Linked DNA regions of Homo sapiens: region 2 is linked to region 1. A link means that fine-mapping ties the variant in region 1 to the expression of a gene that starts in the linked region. Tissue or cell type: sun-exposed skin. Region 1 holds a variant in brackets; the other region holds the start of a gene. All regions are shown on one strand. Distances are from middle to middle.

What was found. PIP is the estimated chance that this variant, and not a neighbour inherited with it, causes the effect.
Region 2: it holds the start of LINC03125, and the variant in region 1 is fine-mapped to the expression of LINC03125 in sun-exposed skin (GTEx, PIP 0.98).

Annotation. Positions count from the first base shown.
Region 1 is chr20:23,095,557-23,098,239 of GRCh38, reverse strand. No RefSeq gene overlaps it. Among named protein-coding and RNA genes, the nearest start is that of CD93, 11 kb to the right of the region's middle. RefSeq lists an enhancer at 1,952-2,101. The variant C/A (reference allele first, on the strand shown) is at 1,054.
Region 2 is chr20:23,146,844-23,149,526 of GRCh38, reverse strand. LINC03125 (long intergenic non-protein coding RNA 3125) reads right to left here and starts at 1,424. Exons shown (of 6, transcript NR_199692.1): 1 at 1,113-1,424. RefSeq lists an enhancer at 776-1,975.

The sequences.
Region 1 (2,683 bases):
ATGGGGCAGTAGGAGACATGTGGGGAGTGGATGCAACCGAGCAGCGGTGAGTTGGGCAGGAGAGAGACAGGGCCCAGGAGGGAACCCTGTGGAGGCCAGAGCAGGGAAGAGGCCCAGGGAATGTGGACCACCTGGTGCCCACACACTGGACACTTCCAGGAGGGATGCCTGAGGGTCAGGGAGCAGAGGACTGATGGGGCCCATGTGGTTGGCCTGCAGAGGTCAGAGGAGGCCGACGTGAAAGCAGCCCCAGGACACCAGAGAGGCAGAAAGGACAGCCATGAATGAAGAAGTGGGCAGATGGAAAGCAGTGGGGGTGAATGCACGTGCTGAGAGCCTGGCTGCAGCAGGAGGAGAGAACTGGGCTGTGCTGGCCTGGACCTCAGCTTTGCCAGATCCTTGCACGGGTCCAGGAGCCTCCTCCATGACCCGTGCAAGGATCTGGCAAAGCTGAGGCTGGACCTGGCCTGTGGCTGAGCTCCCCTGCCCTGGGCTGAGGAGAGCATTAGTTTGAGTGAAGTGCCTACTGTATCTGTTTCTTTAGGAATCAGGTTGCTGTATTACAGGGAGATGTCGACAGTAACCCTCAACCAGAGCAGGGCTGCTTTCCAGCTGCCCCCATATCCTTGATGCTTTTATTTGGTATACGAGTTGTGCAGTTTCCTAATACTACTGTGGTTCTGTAGCCCCTCCAACCTGCCCATCACTTGAGACTGAGTTGAATGGAAATGTGTTTTATAATCTTCTGTGCAATAAATTGGTTTTGCAGTGTGGCAACCCAACTCGTGAAAGTGCTTATCATTTTCAATTATAATTTTTTAGCTCAGAGATAAATTATTAAAGCACAGCAAAATTGTTCCTGAAGATAACATGCTCACATGGTAATTACTCAGGTAAAATGCTGGTAGTCCCCGGGCATTCTGGCTTTGCCTTTCTTAGGAAACCATGCAGAACTATCTCTGTATGACGCAGCAGTGTCACGTTTTATCCTGAGTAGGCAAAAGATGCAGCCTGCTCCCATTGTGGGTCTGAAACAGCTTCTGCAAGTTGGAG[C/A]CTGAAGTGACCCAGTATCTCACCCTGCATTTGCCGCCCACTTTGTTCCCACGGGAAACAGGAAGGTGAGGGTGCCAGTGCATGGGTGTAGATGCCAGGTTTCCCGACTGCTCCAGCGTGTCTGCCTTGCCCTGGCCATGCCATCTACTGCTGCTCGCTTCATTGGACCCCAACGTACGGTGCTAGCTGTTGGAGTATGAACAACCAGAAAAATAAAGGCCAGTCTTCCCCAGGTATGGTTGTCAGCTGTTCTGAGCCACCACCTGGAATATCTGCAGGTGGAAGTAGCCACTGAGCTGCTTCCCTCAGTGTCAGTGCCCGCGAAGGAAGGCTACTCTTTCACCAGAAACAGTTCAGCTAGAAGACTCTTCTGTCTTCCAATATGAGTGGGTGGGAGTGTGGGAGAGCAGAATTTGGCCCTAGAACTGTTGTGTAGATATGAATCTGATTCAGCAAACAGACCAAAGCTCTGCAGGCCTGAGAGGGGCTTCAGGGCCTCTGGGTCAGCTCTTGTGTCAAAGAATGAAATTTTTAGGACTCAGAAGTCTGGAGAAAATGCTTTTGGCTGCAAGTAACAACCAAAGTATAACTGCTCAAACAATTAAGAATGAGAATAATTTCATATAAGAAGTCTCAGGTGGGATCATTTCAGGTTTGGTGAATCCCACAGTTCCAGGAGGCTTTTGGGGACCCGAGCTCCTGCCCTCTTTTTGCCACCTTTCTGAGCCAGCTTGTCCTGACCACAGCAGCTTTGCACACCAGCCCTCAGAAGATCACTCAGAGGACAGGCTGGCCATTTCTCCAGTCTCTGTTTAAGAGCAAGGGGGACTTTCCCAGAAGCATATGGAACTTTCCCTTATGCCACATGGGCCAGTCTGTGTCCCTCCTGAGCCAGGTCCCTCCTGAGCCAGGTGTCAGCTGGGGACAGAAATGTCATCATTGCTCAGATCTGTCAGGGTTGTCCCCTGAATAGGGGAGTCTCCCAGCACGTCCCAACGCTTACTAGCATCAGGTGCACAGTGGAGCTGGTCTTAAGAAGAATAAGGGAGAGTAACAGTTGTAGAGTCTTCAAGAATTCATAAGATGTTACAATTAGAAGGACCCTCCCTGCTTTATAAAGAGGAGAGATGTCCAATATTTTGGCTTCCCTGGGTCACACTGGAAGAAGAATTATCTTGGGCCACACATAAAATACACTAACACTAACGATAGTGATGAGCTAAAAAAAAATCACCAAAAAAATCTCATAGTGTTTTGAGAAAGTTTATGAATTTGTGTTGGACTGCATTCAAAGCCATCCTGGGCCTCATGGGCCCTTGAGCTGTAGGTTGGACAAGCTTGGTATAGGGAGAATCCTGGATAGTTCCCAGCTAACTTTCATTTGAAGAACTGTCATGACTTTCGATAGAAGATGCATAGGCTATTGTGTTATAGGTATTTAGTGATGTTGAGGCTCCCAGGGCTGCAGGAGCCAGCCTGGCGGCACTAAGGAGGAAGCTAATGCAGGCACTGATTGCCACGTTGGGCTGGTTGCCAGCATTGCAAGACACTTTGATTTTTTTTTTTTTTTAGAAAAGCCAGAAATGCAAATCTTTCTGTAAAATCTCACATTTCTTAAATATGCACAATT
Region 2 (2,683 bases), 51 kb before region 1:
GGACACTGGTGCCCTCCCCCAAATACCCTTCAGGTGGTGCCTGCACTCAGGCTGAGGAGGAGGATGTCACGGTGTAGGTGCAGGGAAGGGTGCTATCAGGAAGCACAGCTGTGTCCACCACAGCTGGGGGCCACGGGCCTGCACCTCCACACAGGTGTTGGCTGCTGCAGCCTGGGATGGTCCTCTCTCTCCAGCCCCAGGTCCCTGTGGCTGGGCCATAGGAGTCGCTCAGAAGACTTCATCCCAAACTCACAACTACCATCCTCATCTGAACCTTTGGAAGTCATGAAAATGTGGAAGCACTGGCTGGAAGTTAGCAAGCAGGTTATTATCGAGGCAATGGCTTATGCCGTCTTCCTGGGACCTCCATGTGGAGGAAGCCGGGGCTGCAGCAAGACCTCTGTCTTCGCCCTCGCTGTGGGTCTTGGATCTCACCAGAGCAGGAATCCTTTCAGACCATGGTTTCCTGGCTTATTTGTTTTGTAAAAAATCTGCTAAAGAGGGACTAAGAAGATGTGAAAGCCACATCCACGTATTTTAAAAGTTGCACATATTTTAAAAGTTGCACATAGAACAGGGAGGAGCTTGTCCTGTGTATCCCAGAGGATAAAGCTAGGGACAAGGGTGCTCTGTGTGTGTATGTGTGTGTGTGTGTGTGTGTGTGTGTGTTGTTTTGTTTGTGGTTCTCTGTGTCATCCCCATAGGATTTGAGAATGAGGGGAAGTAAAGGAAAACAAAGGAACACTTTAGATTGTCCTCTTGAAAACTCATGGATTTCCAAGCACTGTGCTAGAAGCTGCCACATCAGCATCTTCTGGGAACTTGTTAGAAAGGGAAATTCTTGGGCCCACCTCAAACCCACTGATTCTCATACATGCTCAGGTATGAGAATCACTCTTCTAAATATAGGAAAAGATCTTTCTAACAGATATCATTGACCAAAGTTGCAGTGCCTTTCCTCATGAGGTGGTGAGTGCTACTCTTCTGGAAGCATTCAAGAGAAGGAGTAACCATTAGTCACGCATGTTGCAAAGGAAGTGAACACAACAGGTACAGAGTTCAACTGAAGTCACTTCCTTGGTTGCTCAGTATTTTAGCAAACATTTACTGACCAGCAGTACTGGGCACTGTTCACAGTGACAGGCGACAGGAATAGAAATCCACAGAAGCTCCCCGTTCTTGCCTGCTCCGAAGACTGAAGTCCAGCAGTCTCTCATGCTGTGGGCCCAGACACTGCTCTCTGTCTTGACTGCCAAACCCTGGCTGGCCAAGTGACGATTCACCATCCTTACAACATACTCCAGTCACTGAAGATTCCCCACGGAACCACCACCTTCCTGCTCAGGCCTCTTCATCTATCCAACAGGAGGAGGGGAAAGAGACCATTGACCCAGGACTGCCCTGGCGTGCATGAAGCCCTGAGTGAGGGCTGTGGCAACTTCCCGGCCTGCACACACTGCTGCTGCTTTCTTGGTGCCTATGAGTCATGCCTTGTCACCCGTGTGACATTAATCACTCAGTGGGACTCAGAAATCCAGCAGATGAATTCTGAAACTGAGTTGGGGAGGAGGCCAAATGTCTCATCGTGAGATGAGTCCCAGGGTACAGTCTCGGACAGATGAATATTCTAGATTACAAGGCTTAGCACTTTAACCAGAGAATAAATACAGACTGTGGTTGTTTCCATGTATTTAAAAAAAGTAAATTATGACACAAGTGATGCACATTTGTTCGGGGAAAGTTACAGTACAGATGGGCAAAACCAAAGAAAAAAGTGCATCAGTTCCCCTAAACTCCACCACCCAGAAACAATTGCTATTAACAGGAGGACGTGGTTTACTTCCAATGCTTTTCTGGGCACATATGTAAGTGTGTGTGTGTGGCAGTGCAACCGTGGAATCGCATTGTAAGACTTGACCCTAACACAGCTTTCCATTTAAAGTATATTGTGAATACGTTTCTACGTCAATACATTTAAATGATCAATTTTAAAGCTATCTAGCCCTCTACTGGCATCAATGCAAATTTTCCTCAGATTGTATCACGTTTAAAAAGTTTTTCTAAGATACACCACACACTCTCCTGCCTTCCCTTCCTGTTTTCTAATCCAAGTACAGAAACATGACATTGCTTGTTTCTAGGTGCCTTGGGGTCGCTGTTATTCAGTGAACCCCTCAGGATGTAAAGTTTCAATAAAGAAGCAGTTTGGTAGAGACAAAAGAGCTCCAGATTAGAAATCAGGATAGCTCTGGGCCCCTGTGCACTCAGGCTCCACATGGTTATGCACAGAACCTTCAGAACCTTCAGATTCATCACTAGCAGGATGGGTCCAGGGCGTGGGTCTTTGCTATGAGATCACCTTAGGTACCTCTGGAGGAGCTGGTCACACCAGTGATAACCCTTTGGAGAGGAGAAAGTCAATGGAGGAGGAGAAGACATGCCTCAGAATCACACCCCAGTTGTTGCTTGAAGTGTGGTCAAGGAGCTGCTTATCTCCACCCACACCTCCTCCTGGACACACAAAGGATATACATTCCTGGGCCCAGTTCAGCTCTTCCAAATTGGAACCTTTGTGGGTGAAGCACAAATAACATGCTTTTAAACAAGTACCCCTGAAGTTTGTCACAGAAAGTTGAGCTCATTGCTCCACTCCTAAAATGTCATTTCTCTTAAACATCTGAAA